Homo sapiens: one gene and its partners. The protein of the gene in region 1 purifies or fractionates together with the protein of each later gene. This does not show direct contact. Each region holds a gene or a part of one and is shown in the gene's direction. Other genes may lie near its edges.

The links.
Region 2: the proteins of LMTK3 (region 1) and ECI1 purify together in Homo sapiens (affinity purification with mass spectrometry; one large-scale study listed by BioGRID and IntAct). This does not show direct contact.
Region 3: the proteins of LMTK3 (region 1) and ACAT1 purify together in Homo sapiens (affinity purification with mass spectrometry; one large-scale study listed by BioGRID and IntAct). This does not show direct contact.

What each region holds. Positions count from the first base shown.
Region 1 is NC_000019.10:48,501,778-48,505,423, reverse strand, and holds part of LMTK3 (serine/threonine-protein kinase LMTK3 precursor), read left to right. Parts: intron 1-2,427; coding exon 2,428-2,515; intron 2,516-2,842; coding exon 2,843-2,991; intron 2,992-3,646.
Region 2 is NC_000016.10:2,245,024-2,248,669, reverse strand, and holds part of ECI1 (enoyl-CoA delta isomerase 1, mitochondrial isoform 1 precursor), read left to right. Parts: intron 1-1,683; coding exon 1,684-1,811; intron 1,812-3,646. UniProt on the Homo sapiens protein: Key enzyme of fatty acid beta-oxidation. Able to isomerize both 3-cis (3Z) and 3-trans (3E) double bonds into the 2-trans (2E) form in a range of enoyl-CoA species, with a preference for (3Z)-enoyl-CoAs over (3E)-enoyl-CoAs.
Region 3 is NC_000011.10:108,120,011-108,123,756, forward strand, and holds the start of ACAT1 (acetyl-CoA acetyltransferase, mitochondrial isoform b precursor), read left to right. Parts: upstream 1-1,556; 5' UTR 1,557-1,596; coding exon 1,597-1,668; intron 1,669-1,785; exon of another isoform or gene 1,786-1,916; intron 1,917-3,746. UniProt on the Homo sapiens protein: This is one of the enzymes that catalyzes the last step of the mitochondrial beta-oxidation pathway, an aerobic process breaking down fatty acids into acetyl-CoA.

The sequences.
Region 1 (3,646 bases):
AGAAACTGTCAGCTGGGCGTGGTGGCTCACACCTGTAATCTCAGTACTTTGAGAGGCCCAGGCAGGCGGATTACCTGAGGTCAGGAGTTCAAGGCCAGCCTGGCCAACATGGTGAAATCCCGTCTCTAATAAAAATATAAAAATTAGCCAGGCATGGTGGCACATGCCTGTAATCCCAGCTACTCAGGAGGATGAGGCAGGAGAATTGCTGGAGCCCGGGAGATGGAGGTTGCAGTGAGCCAAGATTGCACCACTGCACTCCAGCCTGGGCGACAGAGCAAGACTCTGTCTCATAAAAAAAAAAAAAAAAAAAAAAAAAAGAGAGAGAGAGAGAGAGAGAGAAACTGTCAGAGAATGACAAATACCATGAGAAAATGAGGCAGTATGTGACAGAGACAGGGGCCACCTTGGATAGGACCATCAGGGAGGCCGGGTTGACTTGGAGAAGTCAGCCATGCAAAGCACCATGGGAAGTACATTCCAGGCAGAAGGAACAGCAGGTACAAAGGATGTAGGACAGGAAGAAGCTCATGGAGAGTGAGCAGCCCTGGAAATACATTTAGAATGCAGGGTGAAGCCTGGGCACGGTGGCTCATGCCTGTAATCCCAGCACTTCGGGAGGCCGAAGTGGGTGGATCACTTGAGGTCAGGAGTTCAAGAGCAGCCTGGCCAACATGGTGAAACCCATTATCTACTAAAAATACAAAAATTAGCCGAGTGTGGTAGTGTGTACCTATAATCCCAACTACTCGGAGTTGAGGCAGGAGAATCACTTGAACCCGGGAGGTGGAGGTTGCAGTGAGCCGAGATTGCACCACTGTACTCCAGACTGGGCGAAAGAGCAAGACTCTGTCTTAAAAAAAAGAATGCAGGGTGAAAATAAAATCAAATAATATGTTGCCATTAAAACAGCAGTAATTGCTAGGATCTCAGCACATACCAGCTTCTCTCAGATCTCATGTAATTCCTCAGAGGAAGTTGTTATCGCTGTCCCATTTTTACAGATGAGGAAAACTGAGGCAGGGAGCAGCGAAGTGGCTTGCCTGAGATGACACACCTAGGAAAGTGGGAGTCAGGGTTCAAACCCCCGAGTCTGACTCTTTCCCACAGCGTGAGGGTAAAGGGGAGGGTATCCAACCTGGCATTGGGGGGGCAGCAAAGCTTCCCGGGGAGATGATGTTGAGGCAGAGGCCCGGAGGGGCCAAGAGAACTCTGATGAGAGGAGGGCGTTCTGCAGAGAGAGAACCGTAGGTGCAGGCAGGGTGCGGTGGTTCACGCCTGTAATCCCAGCACTTTGGGAGGCTGAGGCGGGCGTATCACCGGAGGTCTGGAGTTTGAGACCAGCCTGGCCAACATGGTGAAACCCTGTCTCTACTAAAAATACAAAAATTAGCCAGGCTTGGTGTCGGGCATCTGTAATCCCAGCTACTCGGGAGGCTGAGGCAGGAGAATCGCTTGAACCCGGGAGGTGGAGGTTGCAGTGAGCTGAGATCACTCCATTGCACTCCAGCCTGAGTGATAAGAATGAAACTCCCTCTCAAAGAGGAAGGAAGGGAGGGAGGGAGGGAGGAAGGAAGGAAGGAAGGGAGGGAGGAAGCAAGGAAGGAAAAAAAAGAGAGAGAGAGAGAGAGAGAAAACTGTAGGTGCAAAGGCCCGGGCCTAAGCAAGGGCCTGCAGGTTTGGGAAAACCCACATGGGATAAAGCTGACTCTTGGGCCAGCCGGAGGAGCAGGAGGAATCAAAGAGCCGGCGCTCTATCCTGGGGTGCTGGGGATCGACAGAGGGCTGTGTGTGGTGAAAAGCAGGTGAGGCAAAGGGAAGGGGAGAGACTAGAGCCAGGGAGGCTGGGAGGAGGCTGTGGGGACGAGGAGGAGAAGACTGAGAAGAGTCTGGGGCAGGAATGAAGGTGGAGGTGAGGTGTAAGGAGGAAGGAGAGGTAAAGGGGTCCCTGGGGACCTGCTCCCCCAGGAGCAGGCCAGTGAGGGCCATCCAGAGATGGGGACCTGGGGAAGGAGTGGGGTGTGGTCGAGGAGAGAGACTCCGAGGTGAGGAAACTGAGATCAAAAAGGTAGAGTGGGCCGGGTGCGGTGGTTCACGCCTGTAATCCCAGCACTTTGGGAGCCTGAGGAGGGTGGATCACTTGAGGTCAGGAGTTCGAGACCAGCCTGGCCAACATGGTGAAACCCCATCTTTACTAAAAATACAAAAATTAGCCAGGCGTGGTGGCGCATGCCTGTAATCCTGGCTACTCAGGAGGCTGAGGCAGGACTCCCGCCTGGGCGACAGAGCGAGACTCCGTCTCAAAACAAACAAACAAACAAAAACAACAAAAAAGGGTGGAGGCAGCAGTTTGGTTCTGCTGGGGGTTGGGGCAGGATGAAGAGGAAGGGGCTGCCTTCCCAACTCAGCCACCTCCTCACTCCACAGGAGCCTGCAGCACCCCAATGTCCTCCAGTGCCTGGGTCTGTGCGTGGAGACGCTGCCGTTTCTGCTGATTATGGAGTTCTGTCAACTGGTGAGGGTCTTGGGGGGTTGGGGAAGGGCAGAGGGGGCAGCTGGACAAGGCCGGGGCCAAGCCTGGTGCCCCTGGGCTTCGTCGTCATCATCATCATCATCGTAGATGATGTGTGGCATGCGCTAACATTTCATGAGTGCTGCCTGTCCTGGGGGCTGGCCTGAACAAGCAGGCAAGATGGGCTGTGTTATTACCTGCTGCAAGCAGCAGAGGAAACTAAGGCTCAGAGGGGCTACCCAGTGACAGCAGAAGCCATTCCAGCCTCCGGGCCGACTAGCTGGAGACCTGAGCGGCTGGTGGTGCTGACCTTCTTTGCCTCCCTCCCAGGGGGACCTGAAGCGTTACCTCCGAGCCCAGCGGCCCCCCGAGGGCCTGTCCCCTGAGCTACCCCCTCGAGACCTGCGGACGCTGCAGAGGATGGGCCTGGAGATCGCCCGCGGGCTGGCGCACCTGCATTCCCACAACTACGTGCACAGGTGGGCGGGCCGGGGAGCCGCGGGAGGAGCTACTAAGGGGAAGGGGGAAGGAGGTGAGGCCTCAGGGGAGGGGCTAGAGGGGGGGCGGACCCATGACTGGCTGACACAAAATAGGGACGAACCGAGGAGGGTATGGAGGAGAAGGGGCCAGGAGAGGAGGCGGGACCAGGAGGGGAATGAGAGGAACCAAGTGAGAGGGAGGCGGGGTCAGGTGATGAGGGGAAGGGCCAGGAGAGGAAAAGGGGTCAGGAGAGGAGGAGGAGGAACCAGGGGAGGGGGAGGGGTCAGGGGAGGAGGAGGAAGAACCAGGATAAGGGGAGGAGCCAGGAGAGGGGGAGGAGGAGCCAGGAGAGGGGGAGGAGGAGCCAGGGGAGGGGAGGGGCCAGGAGAGAAGGAGGAGGAGCCAGGATAGGGGAGGGTCCAGGAGAGAAGGAGGAGCCAGGAGAGGGAAGAGGAGCCAGGGGAGGGGGGCAGGGGAGGGGGAGGAGTCAGGAGAGGAGGAGGGTCCAGGAGAGGAACGGAAGGAGCCAGGTGAGGGGGAAGCAGGGTCACGTGATGAGGAGAGGTGGCTGGGAGAGGAGGGGGAGGAGTCAACAGAGAAGCAGGAGAAGCCAGAAGGGTCAGATGAATAAGAGGAGGAGCCAGTGCAGAGGAA
Region 2 (3,646 bases), on another chromosome or scaffold:
GGCCGAGGCAGGAGGATCACCTGAGGTCAGAAGTTCATGACCAGCCTGGCCAACCTGGTGAAACCCCGTCTCTACTAAAAATGCAAAAATTAGCCAGGCATGGTGGTGTGTCCTGTAATCCCAGCTTCTCAGGAGGCTGAGGCAGAAGAATGGCTTGAACCCAGGAGGCAGAGGTTGCAGTGAGCCGAGATAGCGCTGCTGCACTCCAGCCTGGGCAACAGAGCGAGGCTCTTGTCTCAAAAAAAAAATAAAGATAGAAAATGGTTAATTTGGCCGGGCATGGTGGCTCACACCTGTAATCCCAGCACTTTGGGAGGCCGAGGCGAGGTGTTCACGAAGTCAAGAGATCGAGACCATCCTGGCCAACCAACATGGTGAAACCCCATCTCTACTAAAAATACAAAAATTAGCTGGGCATAGTGGCGCATACCTGTAGTCCCAGCTACTCAGGAGGCTGAGGCAGGAGAATCGCTTGAACCCGGGAGGTGGACGTTGTAGTGAGCTGAGATCGCGCCACTGCACTCCAGCCTGGGCGACGAGCGAGACTCTGTCTCAGAAAAAAATGATAGAGAGAGAAAGAGAGAATGGTTGATTTAAAAAGCATGCAGTTTATATAGAATAAATAAAATTGTTAATTTATGTTATATCGATCTTACTTCAATGTAAAAAACCAAGGGCTCACTCCTGTAATCTAGCACTTTGGGAGCCTGAGGCAGAAGGACCACTTAAGCTCAGGAGTTCAAGACCAGCCTGGGCAACAAAATAAGACCTCGTCTGTACTAAAAAATAAAAAAGATTAACTGGGTGTGGTGGCGCTTGCCTATAATCCCAGCTACTCAGCAGGCTGAGTTGGGAGGATCGCTGGAGCCCAGGAGGTCAAAGCTGCAGTAACCAGAGATCACACCCCTGCACTCCTAGGTGATAGAGTGAGACCCTGTCTCAAAAATAATAATAATAAAAAAATAACCCCCAGGCCGGGCGCTGTGGCTTACGCCTGTAATCCTGGCACTTTGGGAGGCCGAGGCGAGCGGATCACCTGAGGTTGGGAGTTCAAGACCAGCCTGACCAGCATGGAGAAAACCCCGTCCCTACTAAAAATACAAAATTAGCTGGATGTAGCGGCACGCACCTGTAATCCTAGCTACTCGGGAGGCTGAGGCAGTCGAATCGCTTGAACCCAAGAGGCAGAGGTTGCGGTGAGCCAAGATCGCTCCATTGCACTTGAACCTGGGCAACAAGAGCAAAACTCCGTCTCAAAAAAGTAAATAAAAATAGGACCAGGCGCGGGGGCTCACGCCTGTAATCCCAGCACTTTGGGAGGCCGACGTGGGCAGATCGCGAGGTCAAGAGATCGAGCCCATCCTGGCTAACACGGTGAAACCCTGTCTCTACTTAAAAGAAAAAAATTATCCGGGCGTGGTGGTGGGCACCTGTAGTCCCAGCTACTCAGGAGGCTGAGGCAGGAGAATGGTGTGAACCCGGAAGGCAGAGCTTGCAGTGAGCTGAGATCGCGCCACTGCACTCCAGCCTGGGTGACAGAGCGAGACTCTGTCTCTAAATAAATAAATTAATAAATAAAACCCCCAAAATGCACAGCTATCATGGCTTAGTTGAGGGTGCAGGCTGGTCAGGCTGCTTTTCCAGTGCCAGGTGTGAGCTTTCTCTTCTCATTCTTTAAATTAGGGGTCGCTGTGATGAAATTCAAGAACCCCCCAGTGAACAGCCTGAGCCTGGAGTTTCTGACGGAGCTGGTCATCAGCCTGGAGAAGCTGGAGAATGACAAGAGCTTCCGCGGTGTCATTCTGACCTCGGTAGGTGCTAGTTCAGCTCCCTACCCCAGCCCGAGTTCTTGGCCTGAGTTCTCTGATGTGAGCCCAGGCCTGTTGCACATGGAAGAGGCAGAGCCTGCCAACGTGTGGCACAGGCCAGCCGGCAGCCCCACCACCCTGGACTCCAGGCGCCTTCACGGGAGGCTTCCAGGAGCACCGTCTGGGTGTGCCCCAGCAGGGACCCAAACTGCCATGGGCCTCAAGCAGATCATTCCCAAAGGTGAAGGTGGACCAGTCTCAGAGACAGCCTTCCCAGGAGACAGCTTTCCCAAGAGACGCCCTTCCCGGGAGACAGCCTTCCCAAGAGGCAGCCCTCCTGGGAGACCGCCTTCCTGGGAGACAGCCTTCCCTGCCCGGGCCGTCGTCCAGGCGGACACTGGGGAGAGCTGTGGGCAGCGAGTGAGGGAGAGCCATGCATCTATGGGGTCACCTTGGACCCTAAGCACACCTGGTGGTGGGTTCCTGGAGTGCTCCCCACTAGGATCACTTGGGTGCCCTGAGCCAGTCCTGCGAACAATACCCATGCTCTCTGATCCTCTGTGGGCCAGTCTTCAGGGCGAGTTCTCAAGGGTGAACCTCTTTGGTCTGAGTTCTTGTGCAGGGGACTCTAAATGTTGCCTGAGTGCTGGCGAACGCTAGGCGTGTCATCTGTGGGAACGGTGTCATTACCAACATCGCCGAGGGGCAGTAAGCAGTGTCAGGCCCAGGAGGATGGGACCCTTGAGGAGAAGCGGGCATTGGCTGAGGTGAGGGGAGTGAGGGGTCCTCGGAGGCTGGCGTGGCTTTACAGGGCCTGGCCTAGAACTCCTGACCTCAAGTGATCTGCCCACCTCGGCCTCCCAAAGTGCTGGCCACGTCCAGCCTTATATATTTATTGAGACAGAATCTCCCTCTCTTGCCCAGGCTGGAGTACAGTGACGTGATCTTGGCTTACTACAACCTCCGCCTCCTGGGTTCAAGCGATTCTTGAATCTTGAAAATTTTTAAAATTTTTGGGAGAGACAGTGCCTTTATTGCCCACGTTGGTCTTGAACTCCTGGGCTCAAGCACTCCTCCCACCTCGGCTCCCCAGTGTGCTAGGATTACAGGTGCGAGCCATTGCACCTGGTTAATTTTTTTGCTTAATTTTTACTTTTTTGTACAGGCGGGGTCTTGCTATGTTGCCCAGGCTGGTCTTGAACTCCTGGCCTCAAGCAGTTCTCCAATCTTGGCCTCCCAAAGCTCTGGGATTACAGGCATGAGCCACCACGCCAGGCCTGGGTTTTGAGTAACGGAAGTAGAACGCGTTTTGTAGAAACAAAGGACCGGCCTACCCATTCTGTGCGGCACCAGCTCACACCTGTTTGGGAACAGCGGAGCTGCGTTGCCCACCCGCACCGTTCCTGGCTTTTTCACATCGCCTGAGGATGTGGAGGCCATCCCATCTGTCCCAGCCGCCTCCTCCTCGCACACATTAGGTGGCTGTCGCCCTCCTTCCTGCAGACAGGGCGGGGTAAACATCCACCCAGCTCTGCTTGTGTGAGTCAGGGTGAGCTGGGTTCAGCTGCAGGAACAAGTTCACCCACAGCCTTGGGGGGTCTGGCCCTCGGGAGGAAAACGTGCCGTGTTGTGCAGAGGGGAAGGTACCCTTGTCATTTGCTCAGGGGGCTGTGACCATGCAGGGTCCCCAGGGTGGGTTCTCCACTCCTCCCCGAGCCCGCCTCCCTGGCCGGCAGCCCTGACTGGGAGTCTGAGGCTCCTGTGCTGGCGCCCGCTACTCCAGCCGTGGGAGGGTCCCTTCCACCTGTGCTCACCCCTCGCCCTTCCTTGGTAGCTGC
Region 3 (3,746 bases), on another chromosome or scaffold:
GTTTGAGACCAGCCTCTGGGCAACATGGTGAAAACCCGTCTCTACTAAAATACAAAAGATTAGCCAGGCTTGGCAGCGTGCGCCTGTAATCCCAGCTACTCGTGAGGCTGAGGCGAACTCAGGAGGCAGAGGTTGCAGTGAGTCAAGATCGCGCCTGGGTGACAAGTGCGAGACTGTCTCAAAAAAAAAAATTACCCCCAAACAGACCTATTTAGGTGGCTTATGCCTATAATATCTGTGCTTTGGGAGGCCAAGGCCAGAAGATCTCTTAAGGCCAGGAGTTTGAGACCAGCCTGGGCAACATAGCAAGACCCCTTCTCTATATAAAATAAAAATTAAAAAAATTAGCATGGTGGAGCATGCCTGTAGTCCTAGCTACGTAGCTACTTGGGAAGCAGAGACAGGAGGATCCCCTAGCTACTTGGGAGGCAGAGACAGGAGGATCCCCTGAGACCAGGAGTTTGAGGCTGCAGTGAGATATGATTGCACCACTGTACTCCAGACTGGGTGACAAGAGCGAGACCCTATCTTAAAAAAAAAAAATACTCCAAAACATAATGGCCTAAAATAACAACCATTTGTTTTCTCTCGTTTCTGTGGACCATGAATTCAGACAGCATGGTGGGTATGGCTTGTCTCTGCTCCATGATGTCTGGGGTCTCAGCTGGAGTGGTTGAAGGTTGGGGACTGGAATCACCTGAGGCCTTTTTACCCATATTTGTATCTGGACTGAGCCTGGAATTTGATTGCTTCAAAATATTTTCACGGCTGGGTGTGATGGCTCACGCCTGTAATCCCAGCACTTTGAGAGGCTGAGTCTGGCCGTCTGCTTGAGCCCAGGAGTCAGCAACCAGCCTAGGCAACATAGGGAGACCTAGTCTCTACAAAAAAAAAAAAATACAACAATTTGCTGGGCGTGGTCGCCTGCGCCTGTAATCCCAGCACTTTGGGAGGCCGAGGAGGGAGGCTCACTTGAGTCCAGGAGTTCAAGACCAGTCTGGCCAACATGGTGAAACCCCGTCTCCACAAAAAATACAAAAATTATCTGGTTGTGGAGGCTTTCGCCTGTAGTCTCAGCTACTGGGATGGCTGGGGAGGGAGGATCGCTTGAGCCCTGATGGTCGAGATTACAGTGAGCTGTGGTCACGTCACTGCACTCCAGCTTGGGTGACAGAGTGAGACCTTGTCTCAAAAAAAAAAAAAAAAATCCTAAAATATTTTCATGAGTTTGTGCTGGGTAGGCCTAAGGGAAACATGCTCAGTAAATCGAAAAATCTCGGATTACACATAAACCACCGGCCCCGGCAGGTTAGACTTGGTGGACACGGGAGCCAGCAGCGTGTCAGGTGCTCGTTGACCCCAGCGCCAGTGTCTCCATCCACGTCCTTCACTCGTCAACCTTTCCTGGCCCAGGCTGCGGTGTCCCAGCGCCAGGCTCCGCCCCGCCCTTGGCTGCCGGCCAATCGCCGCCGACTGAGAGGCGACTATTGGAGGAAGCGGGATGGGCGGTGCCCGCGCCGGGCCGCTAGGGGTGCGGGGTTGGGGAGGAGGCCGCTAGTCTACGCCTGTGGAGCCGATACTCAGCCCTCTGCGACCATGGCTGTGCTGGCGGCACTTCTGCGCAGCGGCGCCCGCAGCCGCAGCCCCCTGCTCCGGAGGCTGGTGCAGGTGAGCGGGGTTCGTCCCCACAGCACTCAGACCCGGGATGCGAGGAGTCCCCGCCTCGGAAGCTTCCAGCCCGCGGCCGTTGCGGCTCCCGCGGCCCGGGCGCGCGGCTTAGGCCCCAGGACAGTCACGCGACGGGTTCTGGTCCAAAAACCGCCTAAGTGCTCCGATAACACCCAGGGACTCGCCTATTTTTACAGCGCGTTTCTACTTCCAAGGTCTCGGCGTAATCATCTTAATGAGCGTTACTGGTGTGTCAAACAAGGGCACGTGTCTGGGCGGGCAGGACCGCCAGGATTGGCGCTGGCCCGGCCTGAGCGGTGGGATCGGGGAGAGTCTCTTTGCAGGCCTGTGCAGCTGCTCCCGAGATTTTCTTTAAAACATATTTGTGTGCGTTATTGTCAGGAGAGGTTCCTTTTCTTTTTTAATACAATAGATAATCATTGGGCATACAAGGGGAGAGGGCACCATGTGATCATAACAGATGTTTTTTGGAGCAGCCTGAAATTTATCAGGGAAAACAAATGACTACTCAGATAATACAATAAATTATACTTGACATATGAGCAAAGCTCACATACTGAGGGCGTTCCAAGGGCTGTCGCTCTTCTGACCGTTGTGTTTAGGGAACACAGCAGGGGCAGAGTCTCAAAGAATTTATTCTCCACATGCGTAAGCAAGGGAGTACGCACCACAGATTGTCAGGCAAAGCCTCAGGAATAGGTAGAGACCTTCAGGGTGTGGTTGGTGAAGCTTGAGTTTTCTAGGTCGATGGGGGCAATAAGCTTGGAGATCCAGTTATGTTGTGAGTATGGACTTGACCCTAGTTAAGTAGGGATTGTTGATATGTTTGTTTTTGTTGCAATGGTAGGTCACTCTAGTTCTTACGTCTGGGCGTAGAATAACATTACTTGCACAAGGGTGCTGGCGGTAGGAGCTTTGCAAGAGATTGTAAAAGAACCAGTCTAGGACTTGACAATTAGGGAGTGAGGGTGCGAAGCCAAGGGAAAAGAAAGAGTCTAAAATTGATCCTGGGTGACTGAGATAATAGAAAAGTCACAAGGCGTAGGTTTCCAGGGAAGATGAGTTTTTAGCCTATTTGTTAGTCTCATGGGATGAGTGAAGAAATCACAAGAAAGTAATTAGGTTATCTTGGGTTTCAGTCAGTATTGACTAGGTGACATAGGTGAACTAGGTACTCTAGAGATGTAAAAAAAAAAAGTTCAGAACCTTCTTAATTTATGGTTTAATTAAGATCTTACAATCAGGTTGGTTGAGGTGGCTTATGCCAGTAATCCCAGCACTTTGGGAGGCCGGGGTGGGTAGATCATTTGAGGTCAAGAGTTCAAGACCAGCCTGGCCAACGTGGTGAAGCCCCACCTCTATTAAAAATACACACACACACAAAAATTAGCTGGGTGTGGTGGCAGGCGCCTGTAATCCCAGCTACTTGGGAGGCTGAGGCAGGAGAATCGCTTGAACCCGGGAGGAGGGGAAGGTTGCAGTGAGCTGAGATCATGCCACTGCACTCCAGCCTGGGCAACAGAGTGAGACTCCGTCTTAAAAAAAAAGATCTTAAAATGAAACACAAATACTCCTCATGAAAAAAATAAGCCTGTACATGCTGTAATGTATGATATGTGACATTCATATTACTGAACTCTAGGAAGCAGTTGTATTGGACACTTGAATTAAATGGTCATTTACTGAACTATAAACAGGATTTCCAGTTTTCTGTGCTATTTTGTAGAATGGAATTTGACCTCTCATTACATTGGCTCTTTTCCCTTTGCTTACCAGGTCTCTTTTATGGTCAACAAATCTTTATGGACTTTATTGGAGCACATTGCCTTTCTAGCTCTAATCACTTTTCTCTCTCTGGTCAAAGGAGTGGTCTTTACTCATTACCTCCCATGTATTCTGCATCTATTTCTCCTTAACTCTCTGCAGTTAAATTTCTTTGCCACTGAAGCTGAAAAATACAGTGATTTCCTTTTTCTTTGTTTTTTAATTATTTTTTTAAATCTATTTTAATTTTAGTTTTTGTAGACACGGGGTCTGGTTCTGTTGGCCAGGCTGGT